2 linked regions of the Homo sapiens genome follow. The protein of the gene in region 1 purifies or fractionates together with the protein of each later gene. This does not show direct contact. Each region holds a gene or a part of one and is shown in the gene's direction. Other genes may lie near its edges. The genes, in order: CSDE1 and PAIP1.

What was found.
Region 2: the proteins of CSDE1 (region 1) and PAIP1 purify together in Homo sapiens (affinity purification with western blotting; 2 studies listed by BioGRID and IntAct, with this or other methods). This does not show direct contact.

Annotation. Positions count from the first base shown.
Region 1 is NC_000001.11:114,752,505-114,763,117, reverse strand, and holds the start of CSDE1 (cold shock domain-containing protein E1), read left to right. Parts: upstream 1-5,133; 5' UTR 5,134-5,193; intron 5,194-10,613. UniProt on the Homo sapiens protein: RNA-binding protein involved in translationally coupled mRNA turnover.
Region 2 is NC_000005.10:43,543,469-43,554,077, reverse strand, and holds part of PAIP1 (polyadenylate-binding protein-interacting protein 1), read left to right. Parts: intron 1-6,164; coding exon 6,165-6,350; intron 6,351-10,609. UniProt on the Homo sapiens protein: Acts as a coactivator in the regulation of translation initiation of poly(A)-containing mRNAs. Its stimulatory activity on translation is mediated via its action on PABPC1. Competes with PAIP2 for binding to PABPC1.

The DNA of each region.
Region 1 (10,613 bases):
GACTCACAGTTCAGCTTGGCTGGGAAGGCCTCAGGGAACTTATGATCATGGTGGAAGGGGAAGCAAACATATCCTTCTTCACTTGGTGGCAGGAAGGAGAATGAGTGCTGAGCAAAGGGGGGAAAGCCCCTTATAAAACCATCAGATCTTATGGGAACTCACTATCACAAGAAAAGGAGCATGAGGGTAACTGCCCACATGATTCAATTACCTCCCATTGGATCCCTCCCATGACATGTGGGGATTATTCGAACTACAATTCAAGATGAGATTCAGGAGAGGACACAACCAAACCATATCAATAATGAAAATGGCTACATATTTTCTTCTAGAGCTTTAGGGTTATTTTATTTATTTATTTATTTTTAAATTATACTTTAAGTTCTAGGGTACATGTGCACAACGCGCAGGTTTGTCACATATGTATACATGTCCCATGTTGGTGTCCTGCACCCATTAATTCGTCATTTACACTAGGTATATCTCCTAATGCTATCCTTCCCCCCCTCCCCCATCCCACGACAGGCCCTGGTGTGTCATGTTCCCCTTTCTGTGTCCAACTGTTCTCATTGTTCAATTCCCACCTATGAGTGAGAACATGCGGTGTTTGGTTTTTTGTCCTTGCGATAGTTTGCTGAGAATGATGGTTTCCAGCTTCATCCATGTCCCTACAAAGGACATTAACTCATCTTTTTTTATGGCTGCATAGTATTCCATGGTGTATATGTGCCACATTTTCTTAATCCAGTCTATCATTGATGGACATCTGGACTGGTTCCAAGTCTTTGCTATTGTGAATAGTGCTGCAATAAACATATGTGTGCATGTGTCTTTATAGCAATGGCTACATATTTTCTTATTAGTAATCCATAAATGATGACCTACCATACAATCACTACTGCCTTGGATTCAATAAAATAAGTGAAATTTACTCATTCAATGAATATTGTTTAAGTATTTACTGTATACGTAAGTCACTGTGCCAGGTTTTGGGGATACAATGATGAACTAGAGAATTGAAGCTTATGCTGTAGTTCAGAGGGATGAGCAATAAACAAATGGAAACTGATAGTTTAGTGGGTACTTTTACTTTAGAAAAGGCCTTTGTAAAGTGGTTAACATTTGACCTGAAATCTGAATGATGAGAAAGTGCCCAAAGATTTGGGCTAGAACATTCCAGGCAGAGACAACAGTAAATTCATGGGCCTTGAAGTAGGAACAAACTTACAATATAGGAAGAACCAGTTAACCAGGGGTTAGAGAATTTGGTGGGGACTATATCATTCAGGGCCTTGAAGAGCACAGTAAAAGAGTTTGGATTTATGTTAAATACAATTGGATTTCATCAGGATTCAGTTTAAGTTAAATTATAAATATTCTGTTGCTCTACCCTTCCCTCTATTAACTGACTCCCAGAGCTACAATGTTAGATGGTTACTTTTGGTGCAGCATTTTAGCATGTCCACATAATTATCCTATTAAGTGCAATTTTAACATTTTAAAGGGAAGCATTATATAAAGCTTTTGCATTCTTATTTAAATTCTAATATTTTATTACATTAGTGGTATTATGTTATTCTTATTTATATAATGCCCTTTAACTGTTTAGAGGCTGGTTAAAGAATAAAAAGTTTTGGGTTGTAGGCCTATAGGACCAAATCTTAATTATTTACATTAATTCTTATGGAAATAATTCTTCTTTATGAATGTTTTTGCTCTAGAAGTATTATTTCTGTTCTGAAACCTTGGATGTGGACCTCTTTACCATGCACTATTATCATAATTTTATCTTATTTAATGAAATATTTTTTAAGACCTTGTCTCATTCTGTTGCCCAGGCTGAAGTGCAATAGCACGATTATGGCTCACTGCAGCCATGACCTCCCAGGCTTAAGCAGTCTTCCCATCTCAGCCTGCTGAGTAGCTGGGACCACACATGCATCACCATGCCTGGCTAATTTTCAATTTTTTTGTAAAGACGGGGTTTCGCTACATTGCCCAGTCTGGTCCGGAACTCCTGAGCTCAAGCGATCCTCCCACCTTGGCTTCTAAAGTCTGGGATTACAGTTGTGAGCCACCGTGCCCAGCCTATCATAATTTTATAAAAGAAGATCCTCTTTAGTTTCCCTAAACAGGGAGGACATGTCAGAATAAAAACAACTCTTAAAATCTGGAATAAATTTAGCCTTATTTAATTTTTTTAAAAAAGCTCTATATTGACCTAATTTTTCTCATTCGACAGAGAAATGACAAAAATCTCACCCACCGCTGCTCAAGAAAACCTTACAAACTGTAAGAAATGCTTACTTTTGATTCTAAAGTAGACTTCAGAGATAATGTACTTATTGATGATTGTAGAGGGAAAAAAAGCACACAATCATTATCAATTTCATTGTCTAAGTTTTTCAGAGTAGAAAACTAAATATGATGAATAACTAAAAATAATTTCTCAAATTTTTTTCTGATGGTTCCTTAACAGACTATCTTCCCAAAATCCATGTCACCCTGTTGCATAGGAGATGGTTTTCCAAAGTGATTTAACAAGTTTCTGATTTAATTTAAAAAAAAACATAAAAAGATAACCACATTTTTTCAGTTTTTGATTTGACTTCAAAATTCATCTGAAAAAAATCATTATGTAGTGATCTAATAATGAAACCTACTTCTGTTTGTGGGTTTTACTTGTAGAAACAGTAAATCATTTTAACTTGTGATTTATATCAAATTGTTCCACCTGTTACTTTCTTTAATGCATTAGAAGCTAAAATGTATATTTCTCGGTTTATACAGACTGCATTTTGTGTTAAATGTAAATTGATATTAATTTTGGAACAAGGAGGAATTTAAAGGAATTTAAAGACAATTGGGATATATTCAGAATGATGATGATGAAATGATTATATAATTAAAGAAGGTTTTCAGAAGCTATGTGTAATGGTAGAAATCAAGGCTTTATCCTTCCTTATTAATAGTAATTGTATTGATATAATTTAGTAAGACTTTTTTTTTTTTACATTTCCTATTGCTGTGATATTTGAGAATGTATACTAAAAGTAGAATTACCTAATTACCTAATTAGTTTCACATGACCTCATATCTAGCGCAAGAGCCTGGTACAGTTTCTCTATAACATTAGATTAGAATACACAGACCAGCTGTATTGCAGGAAGGGGAGATCTCGATTTAAGAACTGGGTGAATTAAACAAAACAGCTGGTTTGAAATATTTACATTCTGGGCCAGGCGTGGTGGCTCATGCCTGCAATCCCAGCACTTTGGTAGGCCGAGGTGGGCGGATCACCTGAGGTAAGGAGTTGGAGACCAGCCTGACCAACATGGAGAAACTCTGTCTCTACTAAAAATACAAAATTAGGTCGGGTGCGGTGGCTCATGCCTGTAATCCCAGCACTTTGGGAGGCTGAGGCGGGTGGATCACGACATCTGGAGTTCGAGACCAGCCTGGCCAACATGGTGAAACCCTGTCTCTACCAAAAATACAAAAATTAGCCGGGTGTGGTGGTGCACGCCTGTAATCCCACCTACTCAGGAGGCTGAGGCAGGAGAATTGCTTGAACCCGGGAGGCGGAGGTTGCAGTGAGCTGAGATCATGCCATTGCACTCCAGCCTAGGCAACACGAGTGAACTCCATCTGAAAAAAAAAAAAATTTACATTCTGTAGTTTCCCAGAAATATATTCCAATTTCTAACAACTTATCATACTGTTGTCCAGTGCTATTTATTCAACAAGCTTTTGAGAGTTGTTGAGAGCGGGCACTGTCAACAACCAGGGATGCAAAGATGAATTTCATAAGCTCTGTGCTAGAGTATTACTACCTAGTAAAAACTAATAATTACAATAGAGTGAGCTATGAAAGCATTGAAAATGAAGCAAATATTTGTGCTTAGGAAAGCGTGGGAAGGCATCAAAGAGAGCAAAAAGGCAGTTTTGAGGTGTTATACATGGGACTGGACACCAGCAACAAAGGTGGTGAGGAAATTTTTGAACAGAAATGGGACACGGCCTCCTCTTAGAATTCAAGAGGTTGAATTGAAGGTTGTCTTTCCTTCATTGCACTTATTCCAATGTGTATGTTTAGATTTGTTTTTGTGATCATCAATGATGCTAGACTAAAAGTTCCTTGAGGACAAGTCTATATCCGATTTTCTTTACAACTGTATACTTCCCAGTGGTTACACATACAACATGTCAAATAAATGTGTTGTAAGCAAAAAGTGGGTAGGAGAGTTCTCAGAAGACTGGCTGCTCATTATTTATCCAATACTGTCAAGTGAGAGAGCCAGTGAATCTGTGAAAACAGAAGCATTGAATCTGGGAAAAGCATTCCTCTCACCAGAGGAGCATGCTCTACTGTCTGGCAGGGGATAATCCATTGAACTTCCTGTGGTCATAATTACCCATTTTTCTCCTTCCTTCTTCCCCCATTGGATGAATCATCTCTTTGCTCTTATTTCAACCTTTTAATTACTGATCCACCCTCTTTGATTACCTGACACAACAGGAATATCTTTCGTAACTTGAAAGGTCAGTTGACTGAATTTGTTTCATTTTGTTTAGTGATTATGCAGCCTTGCTCACTCTTGTGCATCTGTTGCAATGTTTTTCGTGGAAAACAAAGGTCTCATTTAGATTTCTAAATTACCTTGCTACAAAGCTGACTCTATACTAATGAAATTCCTCTAAAACAGTAGACGTAAGAAAGAATGCTTGCACTATAAGAAGAAACGAGTGTGAGGTCCTTCCGGATTTTTGCTGGGAAAAGATAAATCATTTTTTATGACTCCTGAATATGCCATCAGAATTGTTGGCCTTCAAGGTTTACCCCATTATTGTGGGCTAAAACGTATTCAAACGCTCGAAGACTAGAGACGCCTAAAGCCACCCGCCACCCCTAGTGTCCAGGAGGAGTCAGTAAACACCGAGATTGCTTCCCGCAGCACACCCAAGAAGGAATGTAATGTAATGCAGCCACCATGTTGGTTGTGGTTAAGTGCAGCAAACTGCTTGGCGTCACTTAGCCCTGCTGCGCAAGCGTGTTGAGAGTACGCTTCACTCCGCCCCTTCTCGTGCACGCGCCCGGAGCCCGCAACTCTCGCGAGAGAAGCGAGATTTATTCCTACGTACCGGGCCGTGCTGCTTATGGCGGCGCTGGAGAGGGGGCGCTGAGCTGTTGGGGTGAGTACGACCTCAGGGTCCAACTGGGGGTAGCAGAAACCCAGGGGAAGGGCTGAGAATAAGACCAAGGCTAACGAGAAGCCTTCTGAGTCAAGGTGGGCACTCGTAGAGCTCTAGGTGGGGAAGAATGCACCCCGATTCCCTGCCCTGGGCTTTTTCATACGTCTCCCGTTCAACTGCCTGGGCCTCATGTCAGGTCGCAGAGCTGAAACGAGGAGTTGAGGCCAGCCGGCTGCGCGTGGTGGTAGTGGTGGTGGTGACTAAAGTGGGGGGAGGGAGCGAAAATGGAGGCTCCGACAGCAGCCAAGATGGAGGCAGAGGGTGCGGGGCTCGGGCGCGGAGGCTGCTGGGATCTGTAGTCTGGCTGCTTCCCCATCTGCGGCTTGTCTGGGGAAACGGGAACTACATGTCCCGGCGGGCGGGGCGAGGGGGTGGTGGCGCGGTCCTTTGTGTGAGGTTGGAAGAGCCTGAGACCGAGAAGAGGGGCCTACTTTGACTCTGGACCCTGTAGTTTCCTGGCCGTTACCTGCTTGGGAATCTGACTACCAGTACCAGAGCGCAGTGCGGCAGTGGCGCCTTCTTTGTGTATAGACTGAGACCCTGCTCCATCTAGATATCTTAGGGGAAGTGTTTAAAGACACCTTTCCCCAGCCACATCTGGCACAGTAGTGTGGCGGAATTGACATCGTTACTCCAGTCACCTAGAGCAGGGTCTCAGCACCCAACCTTCCCCTCATTGTCTCCCCTTCGGCGTCTTGAGAAAGGGAACCAGTCCCTAATCTTTTAGGCACGTGGCTCCCACCCCTCTATCTTGGGGAATGGGCGTGCGCCCTGAAAGCTCAGTAGTGTCCTCCCTTCCACCTCCTGTAGTTCTCATGGTGCCAGCGCCTGGCCCACCCACATTGTGCAATGAACGGCCTGGCTTCGTCATTCTATGTAGAATGTTTTAGAGTTCCCCCGTCGGAGACAGCTTCAAATTTTTGCCATGCTATTTTATCAATACGAAATCTTAGTGCCAAGGTTCTTTTGCTTTAAGGTTTTCCCTTAGAAACACCCAGATGGCGGCCGTCTTGCTTAACTCACAGGTGAAGCAGAGAACGCTCCCTGAAACAGGCTTGAATCTGCAAAGAATATCTGAACGTTGTTGGGCAAGTTAATTTTCGTGTTTTGCACCTTAAATGAGTAAAAGAATATGGCGCTCTTTAAACAGTTGGGAGACAGGGCGGAGAGGGAGAATGCTCAAAGGCACTGTGGTAGTTAAATCTTTTTGAGAGGCTTAAATTTTCATCAGGCTGGTATGAACTGGCAGTTCTCAGCCACTGCTACTAACCTACTTTTTTAGAATGTAGGTTTCAAATTATAGCCCACAGATATAAGCTACTCTATACTAAAATGCTGAGTAATTTTCATTTTGAGTAACTAAAGGCAAACATTCTTGATATTGCATTGAGGAGCACTATAATACATACCTTGGTTTTCTTTTGGTACTAACCAATAATGGATATCCTTGGTGTGGGTAAGGAGGGGCTTTATATACTTCAGTAGGGATATACCTGAGTCATAAAACTTAGATAAATATTTGGCCTTCTTTTTGTTTCGTTTTAGCCCTGGGACTAAAATAAAAGAGAAGGTAATAGTTTGGTTTTGCAGCTGTTCTGGATGTTTACCATCGAGATGATTATTTATAGCAGCTGAGTTGAAAACTAAAGTATTTGAGGCACAGAAGATAGGTTTTCTTTTTTTGTAAGTACTGACTTAAGTGTGACCTTTAGCGAGTGTGGGTGAAAATCTGGTAAAGTCCTAGCAAATCAAAATTGAAAGCGTGAAAGCTGACGTGCAGTCTGGCTTTACCCTCTACCCTTATTTTCCCTTCTCCCCACCTGAAGACACATCGTGTAGGGCCATCGATTTTTGTTTTAAACAAACAAAATGCTAAAATATCAAATTATGCTGGAGCATTCATAACATGAAATTTAGTGTTCCAGTGTTTTTCATTGTACAGTTCAGTGGCACTAAGTCTATTGAAACTGTTGTGAGAGCCATACTTTCGACAAGGTAGTTAAAACATGGAAATTTTGGAACGATGTTCTTTTGGACAGATTTTTGAGGAGTTGAATTTCAGGACTGTATTGCAAAATGAGATAAAAATCTTGATCTTGTTAAGTAAACACAAAGAATTGATGTGCCTTCTTCTTAGCTTTGTCCTTGCAGAAAACAGAAGAGGAAGCACTTTGAGATCTATTTTGTAAGCTTTAATAGCTAGACTGTTGTAAGTGGTGAAACTACTATGGTGAGAGTGACTTGCTGTTAAATCCCTTCTGCCCAGTCAGGATTTTAAAAAGTCCTTTGTTTTGATATTAGAATGTTTTCCACTTGCATGTGTGGGTACCTAGTTAAAAACAACACAAAACTTTTTAATATTTTAATGTCCTTTTATGCTGAGGTAAAACAGTGTGTGGCTGAAAATTATCAGTTTCCCCTATGTTGCACATGTAAGCTATCCGTTGATTTGCAGCTACAGCCGGTACATAACCAGTTATTTGCACTTCTTTTTCTCCAATTTATTAACAACAAGCTTCTATGCTAGATACTGCCTACTTTTATTAGTGAAAATCTTTGCTCAAGACCCTTACATTTACTTCCTGTTGCTAATTGGCACAATAGTGCTTTTTTAGACCCCTGCTCAGTTTATACCTACTCTGTGGAACATGGTAGCCGCCAGCCACGTGTGGCTGTTGTGCACTTGAAGTGTGACTAGTTTGAATTGAAATGTGCTGTGATTGTATAATAACATTGGATTTCAAGGAATGTAACAGTGTCAATTTTTTTACATTGATTGCCTGTAGAGAATAACATTTTGGATATAATTGGTTAAATAAGACGTTTAATTAAAATTCCTTCTGTTTCTTTTGACTGTAATATGGTTACTAGAATTATAATTACACTGTATTTCTGTTGGAAACTGCTGGTCTGTGGTGTTTTCTGATGTGTCTAGAATGTTTCTTCAGCATCTTCCCACACTGCCATTTGTCCTGCTTAAAACTATTAGGTTTCTGGGTGTATATATAAGCAGTTAAGTGATAGATAATTTTAAATATCTCAGTAGCTGTTTAGATAATTAATCCAGCACAGTTGTTACTACACAGATACAAAAAGATAGTTGTGTCAGTTTGATTTTTTATTTTTACTCAACAGATGACTTAGGTTGGTTAATTATCTAGAGTTTATCGTTTACCTTAGATCCTAAAGTAAAAATGAATTAAGACCTATTAAGCACTTCAGTTATAAAATGTGGTGCTCAATGAAATGTCAGGCAATAGAGAAACTTTTCAGTCCTATGCTACCTATTTGGGTCTTTGTTTTTTCCTGCCTAAAAGAAGATACTGCCTAAAGGAAGTGGGTTAGGTGAGCAGACTTTTGTAGACTGGCTTAGCCTTTCATTAACTTTTCCCGAAGTGAGTGCTGCACATACTTTCAAAATAATAAACTAGGTAGTGTGATACATTTTAGATGGATTACTTACCACATAAATGTGTTAGTTTAACCTCTTCATTTAGTGCCGACTATGTCATGGCTTATGCTAGGCCTTTGAGGTAAAACAGCCGAGGAAGACATGAAATAAAACAGGTGGTGGCCAGGTGCAGTGGCTCACGCCTGTAATCCCAGCACTTTGGGGGGCTGAGGCAGGTGGGTCACTTGAGGTCAGGAGTTCGAGACCAGCCTGACCAACATGGTGAAACCCCATCTGTGCTAAAAATACAAAAATTAGCCAGCCAGGCCTGGTGGTACACGCCTGTAGTCCCAGCTACTGGGGAGGCTGAGGCAGGAGAATCGCTTGAACCCGGGAGGTGGAGATTGCAGTGATTAAGTAATAATACTATTTCCATGCTGAGCAAAGGGAAAAGGAGTTGATTACTTAGCACACAGTATGATTCTCAGATACACATTTAAATTGTTCCCTAGTGTTTTTATTGGTACCCTATGGTGGGTTTGTGGGGGCGATTGTTTTGAGTCAGCGTCTTACTCTGTCGCCCAGGCAAGAGTGCAGTGGCACAGTCATAGCTCACTGCAGCCTCAAACTCCTGGATTCAAGTGATCCTCCTGCCTCAGCTTCCCGAGTAGCTGGGACTACAGGTGCATGCCACCACACCCAGTGAATTTATTTTTTATTTCTAAAATTTTTTGTAGAGACAGCATCTCACCATGTTGCCCAGGCTGGTCTCAGACAATCCTCCCACCTTGGCCTGCCACAGTGCTGGGGATTACAAGCGAGAGCCACCACCCCAGCCCAATACCCAGTGTTTCATGCAACTTAAGTTTCAAGCTTTTAGGGGGATGGAGGAGATGCACTTGTGTTCCTAGGGTTAAGGCAAAAGAGGTGGTTAGTAGCACCAATTAATGTTAATCCGGGCATGAGTGGATAGCTATTTATATTAAACTGCCTGACCAATACCTTTAAGTTCTTCAGTAAGTGTTAATTTAATTGAAAAACATTTAGTTAACTATAGAAGCTGTGAAGATGTTAATTCGGCCAGTAAATTATTCATGACTGTTGGTGGGTTCGTTTGAGCTTTAATAGCTCCTAATAGACCTCATTAGTGCCTAAGAATGGCCCTGCAGTACTCCAGAGTTTCAGTTCCAGAAATCTCTTTTTTTGTGTTACTGAATCTTGGACTTGACAGTTCTTAATGTGATACGACAACCTGGAATGGGTTAATCCAGTTCAAGTGTTTCAAGATAACTTGTTTTCTCCATGTTGAGTTCTTTGGGTTCATTAATACACCTAAAGCATTAAGATAAAACCAATATACACAGTCTGTATTTTTTAAAGAAGAGATTATTTCTTGATTGGATAATTAAAACTATATAATTAAAGGTGGTATAACTGTTTACACTTGAATTGTGGCATAACTGTTTACACTTGAATTGTGGCGTCCTTTTGCTTATTAAGGATTAACTACCTTTTTCCTTTGGTTGTATATGGCAGCACTGGATTAGGTGCGAAAGGAGGCTGTGATAAAGAAATTTGAGTTTACCTCTCAGAAATTTGAAATAGAATTGGAGGAACAAGATACATAAAAACATGAAGTAAACAAAGTACAGAAATTGCTTGGTATCACTTGCTGCAAATTGCTTGGTGCAGGCAGTGGATGTTACTGCCCCATTCATTAGTAGGAATTAATGAATGAGTCTGCTGGAATGGTCAAGAAAGGCTTTTTTGTCACCTTGAAGATCACAACATAGTATTTTTTTGTGGGAAGACCCATATAAGCAAAGGTGGCTAGAATTCAGGAATCTCCCAAGAGTTGTGTTTAAGGATTAGGCGAGGTAATGGACTTCTGGTAGAACTGGAACACAGTAGAGAGTAAGGATGGAAGGTAGAATAGAGACACCTGGAATAGTAGTTCTTAATCCTGGCT
Region 2 (10,609 bases), on another chromosome or scaffold:
ATAGATCAGCACCTCCTGTGCTCAATTTACCAAAACAGATTGCAGCCTGGCACCTGGAAACCTGTGTGGCCTGCAGGTGTCTTCTCTAGCCCTGAATGGGTTTGTTTTTTCTTTAAGTTGTTTTATTTAATTAACCAATACCTAAATTAGATATTAGAAACTTGAATGTTCTGGTTTGTCATAAAATCTGGCCTTAGTGGACTGGCATTTTGATACAGCAAAAATTGGTTGGAGCTGAGTAGAGGCATTCTCTTTAGATGGAGTCTGTGAGCTCTAATTTGCTTTCTGGCTTATTTCATTCATTTGTAATCTACCTGAATTCTACAGGCATTCAGGCTTACTACCCCTGTTCTGGTATATTCTCTAGCCTTACTGGTTTACCCTAATCTTTACCCATAGTTAAGGCTAAGAGAGTTTTTCTCAATCCAATTAGTCATAGAACAGCAGGATCCTTTTTTCCCCCGACTCTTAGGATAAGCTCTTGTTGCAAAGGAAACATTTCCTTTTAGTAGCCATAATCCAAAGTTAGCTACATTCACTCATTCAACAAATAGTCAAGTACTTATCATGAGTCAAGCACCGGTGATACAGCAACAAACAAAATGGACAGAAATTCCTGTCTTCATGGAGTCTCTATTCTAGTAGTCTCCTGGCTCAGTTTGCAGACATTTATTGAATCTGCTTTTGTTCTACACATGAAAATCTATTTCCTGGTATCCTTTTTCTAACAGCCTTTATGGTAGTCTTCTGCTGTGCTTTCTTAACTCTTTCAAGGCACCAAGCCCTTTTATCTTCAGTTCTTCCTCTAATCCTGCTGCTAGAATTTCCTACTTTCCATGTCTTCTTACCAGTGAGTTGCTATATCCATTTATCCCTGGCCATTATTTCTTCTCAGACAAACCATTATGCCTTGAATATTTGTCACAGTTCACTTACCAGAGCCAAAAATTTAACATAGGAATTCATAAAGCATTGATGAAGAGACAGAAGTCCCCTTCCTCCCCTGCAAAAAAACGAGCTTTTTTTCTAAGAGAATCCCTCTTCAAGTTACTTCCCAGTTTTTGTTCTGCCTTGCAGTAGTATCATTCTCCAATAGGTAAAATTATTCACTGTCTCTCACTGTTCAGACCTCTGCAGTCTGATCTCCCTAATTGTATTGATACTATTTTTGTGACTGATGTTCTTCCGATTTTTAAATTTATCTTCCTAAATCTCATTTTAAAACTTTGAGCACTGTAGGATCTATTCAGTTTATAAATCCCCATGTGCCAGGTCCTGTGCTAGGTGCAAAGGTACCTTTTTAGTCTATCAGAAGCTCCCTCCCATTGTTTTAAGAACTAAGTATTTGAGGTACTAGTTTTGTTCTTTTTTCTCTCTGAGTATAATCTCCTTCACTCCCGAGACTCTGCAATGATAATTCTCTTCCAGATTTCAACCTATGAATTTATTCTGTAGCATTTGTTGTTATGAGCATCTCTTCTCCCCTACCTCTTTGGCTTCTGTGGCAGTACTTTATCCTCCCAACTTGCAGATCATTCCTTTTCCCCTCAGATGACAGTTGGTGACGTTCTTTCTTCCATTTTATTACCTCCTTTGCTAATCCCGCCTATTCCATAGAATCTATCACTTATTTATGTGCTAATAACCCTGACATCTAATTATTCCTTTGAACTCTAGTGAACTCTAGGCATACATTTTCATTTATTTGACCACTTCTTGAGGACCTCACATTCAAATGCAAGTATAAAATCTATACACAGTGTAAGAATTATTTATCTCATGCGAATCTCTTCTAACTAGCTGCTTACACTAAGAACTTGGTGGCATATTGACTCACCTCTCCTGCACACCCTTGCCTTAATTCAATCCAGCTAGCTAAAGTAGTCGTGACTATATTCACTCTCTGTAGTGTCTGATCAGTTTTCTTTTATTCCCACGGTTCTGTAATAGGTTCTCATCTCTTGACAATGTATATAGAGTACCTACCATGAAAAAGTACATTTTCTATTTCTCCCAATCTCCCATAGAATTCTAAGAAAAATAAAACTTGAAAATATCTCTGTTTGGAAGCCATTTGACTCCACATTGAAGACTGAAGAAATTTGTGGCTTTAAAAAATCTGGTGCTAGAGAAGTAATGCAGGCTTTGATTCAAACACGTTGGAGTGCCTGTCTGTTCCAAATACTCTATGCCTCCTTTTTTTGCTTAAAATGGCAGGCTCTGGATCCTCTGTTCTGCTATATTCAGAGCAGTTCTACTTTCTTCTTTTACTGATCAGATTTTACATTTTCTTAAAAGAGAGTTCTGTTGACTTTAAAAAAAAAAAAAAAAAGATTGCAAATCAGCGCTCTAAGCAGCATTTTTGCCACGAAGAATGACATTTGATGGAAACAGGAAATTAGTACTTTCAGCTGGGACCCGTACCTTTGCCTTTCTGCTGTTCCTTGTCATTAATAGTGGTAGGATACTACAAGTCTGTAAAACTAGTAACTGTATATCAAAAACTTAAGACTAGTTTTTAGTTATAAAATTCACGCATGTATGTAGTTAACATTAAGTATATGAATGTGTACAATTATGCCTAACTGCTTTCACAACTTTATAATGTCAATATTTATAATGGGAACATTTTCTCACTCTAGAGGTAAGTACTGTTGTCTCTTGTTTTCTTAAATGGCTATAATATTCCATTATACAGATATATGATAATGTATTTAACCAATTCCTTGTTAATGGATTGTTACGTGGATTTTTTGGCAATGAACATCTTTGTACATAAAATTGGGTTTTAAGCTTTTGTCCTTTATTTTGAGTTTCACAGAGAGGTTAAAAATATAGGCTTTGTTCTGCGCTCAGTTCTTCTAATCAGTTTTGTGACCATGCACAGTCACTTAAGTTGGTGCATGGTCCTTCCTTGTTCAAACCCTCTTTCCCCCATCCTGTTTTTCCTACTTCCTTAAGAGCCAGTTTCCTTAATTTGGCCCCCAAAGCCCTCTAAGATCTCCTTATCTGCCTCATTGACCTCATTAGTTACCACCCATCCTCAGTTTCTGTATTCTAGTTATTGTCTTTTTCAAAGTTATTAGGCCTCCTTGGGGCCTGTGTGCTTCTTGTGCCCATAGAAAGAGAATATCTTTCCTTAGATATTTGTATGGCTGGATCTTTTTTTCTTTCTTAGTTTATATATTAACTCTAAGAATCTCTACTTGGCTTTTTGCTTTTTTTTTTTTTTTTTTTTTTGTAGTATATTTCAACTTCTGAATGTGTCTTCCATCATGGGGTATGAGCTCCATGAGAGGAGAGCCTTGTCTGCTTTATTCATGGCAGATATTCATGTCATGGCAGTATCCCATCCCCTAAGACAGTCTTTGGCACTTAGTAGGTACTCAGCAGCCACACCATTTTGAATGAATAACCAAAGTGACTTAACTACTCTGTGCCTGTTTCTTCTATGCAGGGAGGATAGTGATGCTTACCTCAAAATGTTCTAGGTTAAACAAGATGCAGGCAAAGCCCTTATGGTGTCTATCACATATCATATATGCAGCTGGTGGCTATTAGCTTATTAACTGGAGTACCATCCTAGGTGCCAAGAAATACAGCTTTTTATCATTCATTTTGGATGCTTTTTATACTTTAGTCCCTTTATGTATGAATACATGGCTGTTGCATTTGGAATATGACTCAGTATTCTCCTAGAAATTTAAAATGTAATTCATTTGTTGAACATTCTGTGCTTTACTATGTGCTCTTCACCAATCTAGGTGAATTTGATTAATTCACTTAATCCTCAGAGTCACAGTGATAATATTTATGATTAGTAAATAAATGCATCAACATTAATACCTCCTATTATAGTAGAATGTTTAACTTGAATTCAAATGCGTGACAAAAATCTAATGTATTAGAGTTTATCCTTCTATTCAATGAACACTATATGTGAATGAAAAAGGCACATGAATCTGCTATTTCTGCAGCTGGTTTTACTTCCTGACTGCCTCTCATAGTACATGCAACTTTTGCTAAGTATCACTTCAGTCTCTGAAGATACATAGGCCGGGCATGGTGGCTCTCGCCTGTAATCCCAGCGCTTTGGGAGGCCGAGTTGGGTGGATCATTTGAGGTCAGGAGTTTGAGACCATCCTGATCAACATGGTGAAACCCCATCTCCTCTAAAAATACAAAAAAAATTAGCTGGGCCTGGTGGTACATGCCTGTAGTCCCAGCTACTCTGGGAGGCTGAGGCAGGAGAATTGCTTGAACCTGGGAGGCAGAGGTTGCAGTGAGCCAAGATCTTGCCACTGTACTCCAGCCTGGGTGACAGAGCGAGACTCCATCTCAAAAATAAAAATAAAAAATAAAGATAAAATAAAAAGTGTAAAACATGACCTCCAAATGATGGTTATTTGAAGTGGTAGCACTATAGTGGTCCATTTTCATGCTGCTGACAAAGACATACCCGAGACTGGGAAGAAAAAGAGATTTAATTGGACTTACAGTTCCACAAGGCTGGGAAAGCCTCAGAATCATGGCGGGAGGTGAAAGGCACATCTTACGTGGCCGCAGCAAGAGAAAAATGAGGAAGAAGCAAAAGCGGAAACCCCTGATAAACCCATCAGATCTCGTGAGACGTATTCACTATGACAAGAATAGCACCGGAAAGACTGGCCCCATTGATTCAGTTACCTCCCTCCTGGGTCCCTCCCACAACACATGGGAATTCTGGGAGATACAATTCAAGTTGAGATTTAGGTGGGGACACAGCCAAACCATATCAAGCACCAACAGTAAAGGGACAAGTGGACAATTGGCAATGTTGGTCTTTCTCCTAAGACTGTGTCCTGGGCCAGGCGCAGTGGCCTGTAATCCCAGCACTTTGGGAGGCCAAGGTGGGGGAATCACCTGAAGTCAGAGTTTGAGACCAGCCTGGCCAACATGGTGAAACCCTGTCTCTACTAAAAATACAAAAATTAGCCAGGCATGGTGGTGCATGCCTGTAATCCCAGCTACTTGAGAGGCTGAGGTACAGGAATAGCTTGAACCCGGGAGGCGGAGGTTGCAGTGAGCCAAGATTGCACCACTGCACTCCAGCCTGGGCGACAGAACAAGACTGTCTCAAAGAAAAAAAAAGACTGTCTTTCTCCAACATGGAGCATTTCTAAGGGTGTTTTGACCATGTATGACTTTTTTTTTCTTCTATGCACTCACTGACTTTAGAACTTAACCCCTTCACAAAATGCTTCTGTTTTGTAGTCATAACTTTTTTATGTGGCTTTTCATTTACTCTGTTTGGAGAAGGTTAAATTTCATACAAGCAGTGTAGTTATTATTAGATTTTAACTGTTTGGTAAACTTTAAAGCGCTTCGGGTGGTATTCCAGGCATTGAGATGTGAAAGTTGTTGCTCAAGTCTATTATCTTTTGTAAAACTCGCCCACTCAGCCTTCTGCCATTAATGAAAAGGTTGGAAACTGCCAAAGGTGACAGTGGTGGAAACAACATTAGCTGGAAACTACTGCTGCTATCAAGGTTGTGTTAGCAACCTGGATGTAGCAGCCAAAAGGTCTCCTTCCATTTATACCGTGATGAAATTTTAGTTACTCGAGCAGCTTTATGCATTTCTTTGCCCTTGGGGATTAACAGATGATAAACCTTATTAGGTTTTTGTTTTTGTTTTTTTTTTCCCCAATAAAAAAGTTGTCAACATTTGCAGAAATACAGAGAATGGTATAATGAATCCTCATGGCCTCAACAGTAAGCTACATGTGGCCGTTCTTGTTTTTATATCCCTAGTCCATACTTCCCCTCCCACTTTGAAGCAAATCCTAGATCTTATTTCATTCGTAAGTGGATCAGATTCTTAATTTTTATATTGGCATTGTAGTGAAATATTGGTTTAAACTTTATTCCTCAGCCATCTTAGAAGTTGACCCAGAATGAGAAGACAATTCCCTGTTTAGCTGAACAGAACCTTTCTGCTGTTAATTATAACACTTCAGCTTTTAGGCAAGGAAGAAAAATAGCTCAATTGACAATTTTATTGATGAACATAAATTTTTATCATGTGAGGGATCTTTAAAAAAGCATTTGTGCTAGAGACATACCACCTTGTGTGTTTTAGCCAGTTGCATAGATTAAAATTGTTTTTTCATTTTTGATCCGTAGGAATCCTATGAGGATGGTTGTGAGGATTATCCTACTCTATCAGAATATGTTCAGGATTTTTTGAATCATCTTACAGAGCAGCCTGGCAGTTTTGAAACTGAAATTGAACAGTTTGCAGAGACCCTGAATGGTTGTGTTACAACAGATGATGCTTTGCAAGAACTTGTGGAACTCATCTATCAACAGGTATGTTGGCTTATAGCATGCAGTGACCTTCAGATAGCTTCCTTGAAGCCCAAGGATAGTGGCTACTCCTTGAGGGAGACCAGATTCATGATCACCTGCCTCCACACTTACTCTTTATAGTTTCCGGGAGTTCTAAGTCTGTCTTGTATAAAACTCCTATAGTTAGGGATCCAAGGGTAGAGCCAGACAGGATTGCAAGTTCACATGTGTAGTCAAGATTCAATATAGGTAATATTCACCTGTTTAGCCAAAGCTCTATACAAGCAGTATAGTATAGAAGGTGATATGGGCACTGAAAACGAAGGCTACATAAGTGTCACCCCCACCAAAACCCTGCCCCTTGTTTTGCAGGCTCTGAAATTAGCAGTACCAGAAAAGACTGCAATTCTTTTCCCCTATGTGTTGAATTGAATAGTAGTATTAGAGTAGGGGAGGAAAAAAATTGAGAGAATTTGCTTGCCTCATAAGTAGGTCTTTAAAAAAAAGAAAGCCAAACCATAAAATGTCTTGTCTTAGCATTTCTACTTGCCTTTGCTTTCTTTTAAAATTTAAGGATTTCATCTTAATTCCTTGAAAGTCTAATTTAGTCAGTTGAAATTGTTTCATTATACAACATTTAGTTTTTATCCCAGCATATTGGTCATTAACATATTAACGCTTTTTTTTTTTTTTTTTTTTTTTTTTTGATATGGAGTCTTGCCCTGTCTCCCAGGCTGGAGTGCAGTGGCGCAGTCTCAGCTCCCTGCGACCTCCGTCTCCCGGGTTCAAGCGATTCTCCTGCGTCAGTCTCCCAGGTAGCTGAGATTACAGGTGTGCACCACCATGCCCAGCTAATTTTTGTATTTTTGATAGAGACAGGGTTCCACCGTGTTGACCGGGCTGGTCTCGAACTCCTGACCGCAAGTGATCTGCTTGCCTTGGTCTCCCAAAATGCTGGGATTTTACAGACATGAGCCGCTGCACCTGGCCTCATTAATGCTATTTTAAAAGTGAAAAATACAGTAGACAACACTGGCTTAACACAAAATTTCTTAGTCAGTGTGAGACTGGTCAAAAAAAATGGGCCATGATCAGAAATGTAAACTTTAGGTTCTTTAAGTCACTGTTACAAGAGCAACTCAAATTTGGAATATATGGAAGGGAGATTATAATGCAAATTAATGATTATTTTCTATCCTAATGTTTCATTTGGCTGCTTTTCCAAGTTATTCTGGATGGTTACTGGACCCCAAGATTACCTAGCCAACTGTCAGTTTTGAGGAAGTACCTGAGATGTTAGGAAGACAGAACTGCACTGTTTGTCCTCATTTCTGCTTTCTGCTGATAAATGGATTGAAAAGGAATATGAGATAAGAAAATGAAACAAATGTATTTATTTCTTGTTGCCTTTCTGGCTTCCTCCACTATTTAGTTTCAGTTATTCAGTAGGCTGCGTAATTATACTTATTCAGGGCTGGACAAAGGGTCAGTAACCTGATAAGCGTCAACTATTTCTCTGATTGTCAAATATGTAGTCAGTATGTTTAATGTTTTAATATTCTATGATCAATGATGCATAGGTTTATCAATAGCTGCTAAGTTTCATTGAGGTAATTTATGGAAATTTACTCATAGCAACTAACAAACGAGGAAGTATTACAAAAGATGACAGATTAGGCCAGGCGCAGTGGCTCATGTCTGTAATCCCAGCACTTTGGGAGGCCGAGGCGGGTGGATCACCTGAGGTCAGGAGTTCAAGACCAGCCTGACCAACATGGAGAAACCCTGTCTCTACTAAAAAAAAATACAAAATTAGCTGGGCTTGGTGGTGCATGCCTGTGATCCCAGCTACTCGGGAGGCTGAGGCAGGAGAATCGCTTGAACCCGGGAGGCGGAGGTTGCAGTGAGCCGAGATTGCGCCACTGCACTCCAGCTTGGGCAACGAGCGAAACTCTGAATCAAAAAAAAAAAAAATGACAGATTAAATACACATTCAACTCTGATATCTCCCAAACACCACTAAAATGATGCTATGGGGATTTTTAAAAGGCGGAAGCTCATAGGGACAGAGAAGAGGAAAAGAAAAGCACTAGTTTTGAAGACTAGAAAGCAGGTGGGTGAGTGGTACCTGATTTGGCAGATCTAACGTTGAATTCCAAGCCAGTGGTGGTAAAGCTGAGAATCACCATGACTTACAGTGCAAAACCTAAAAGGTTCTAAAATAAGGATGGAATGAGGCTAAAAGGATTGCTTGAGAATCTAAAAAGTTAGACCATCCAGATCTTTTTACACTGAACAGCCGGTTTGAAATTTTGTTGTAACCCTTCTTATGAAATTAACAAAGGACGTACTCTGTCAAAAAGAGGAGTTATGCCACGGATGAAGACATGGGAACCAGGAAAAGGAACTCTACAGGAGAGACTAAGTGAACTGTCCAGATGATGGTTCAAAGGAGATCTCAAAACAATAGCAGCATGCATAGTAGGTCTGAAGCAGCCAGGCTTCACTGGACTAGGTCAGAAGGCTCCAGGAAAGACTTCCGTAATAAGATGAGCACACATGCTGTAAGACATAAGAAGAAATTTACAGAGTAGTGAGTTTAGGGATAAATCAATGAGAAGAATATAAAAGTGTAGTAAAAACTGAATCTAGGGAAGACAAAGTTGTGCAAAAGTAAAAGCAGTGTAATACATGGTTCAGCTATAAATGAAAACACAGCAAATGAATAAAATCATAACCATACTGTGATAGGAGGAAATAGTAGAGTGGGGTGAAATTAAGCAGGGTGAAAGCTAAAAGCTCATCTTCCATGATGGGAAACTGTAAGTTGAGTATCCCGTATCTGAAATGCTTGAGATTTCAAGCATTTCAGATGGATTTTTTCAGATTTAGCATATCCAGTATATAATGAGACACCTCAGGGAGGGTACCTAAGTATATTACAGCTGAAGGGGGTTGACAGGGTCTTTTTTCCTTTGGGGATGCTGAATAAATTATGTGTTGTACACCTGTGTTTTGACTGACCTGTCACATGAGGTCAGGTGTGGAATTTTCCACTTTTGGCATTATGTGGACACTCATATTTTCTGTTTTTGGAGGATTTTAGATTTTTGGACAGGGATGCTCAAGTTGCAGTAAGAAATAACATCTAAACTGAAAAATTACGTAGTGCGGAGATATGGGGATTAAAACATTTTTGGCTGAAGAAGTCAAAAGTGGTTGTCTTTGGGAGTAAAACCGGGATGTAAGTAGGAAACTGTTGAATGACAAGCCTTATAGAACTTGTCTTTAAATCGTGTTATAACACTAAAAAGAAGCTAAAGGAAAACATGCAGTGCCAATAATGGGAAAAATGTAAGGGTGAACCAAGTCTTGGGTACCAGCTAAACATACATGATGTCAGGAGAAATCACTCTTTCTCCCTTAATGTGACATATACTGGCCCCATGTGAGCAAGGAAATAATTAGAAATAAAAGTTAGTAAGTAGACCCAACATATAGAGTCAGAGGGGTAGCAGGACATTTGTTAGATCTAGATTCTATGTTCAATTACATTTGTGGCCAAGTCCCTTAGCTTTTTTTTTTTTTTTTTTTTTTTTTTTAAAAAGATGGGGGCTTTGTTTTGTCACCCAGACTAGAGTGCAGTGGCGTGACCACAGCTCACTGCAGCCTTGAACTCCTACACTCAAGTGATCCTTCCACCTCAGCCTCCAGAGTAGCTGGGACTACGGTGCATGCTACCGTGCCCAGCTAATTTTAAAATTTTTTTATAGAGATGGTGGTCACACTGTGTTGACTAGGCTGGTCTTGAACTCATGGCCTCAAGCGATCCTCTGGCCTTGGCCTTCCAGAGTACTAGGAATACAGGCATGAGCCACTGTGCCCGACTTCTTAACCTTTTAATGTGTGTTTTCTTACCTAATATTAGATGGTAAACTATGTTCTCTACTATTCTTTAGAAATTGCAATTAAAGTTAAACTTGCTGAACACTGCTTCAGTTATATCAACAATCTTTGATGTGTAGTGTTTTCTTACTTTTTTTTTTTTCTGTTTTTAAGTAGCTTAGCTGTTTTCATTTCCCCTTTACCCAATCATTCTTGGAGTGTTTAAGTGTTAGTTGCTTGTGCCAGTTACCATTAATCACCTCTTTAAAGTCTAACTGAAGCTCAGGGAGGTTTACTGATGTCCAAAGTCATGAAGCAAAATGCCAGGGAATCTTGTCCTGGACTGCCAAACACTAAAAAGTCTGTGCTTTCCTGCCCCAAGAAGCCCCACTGGT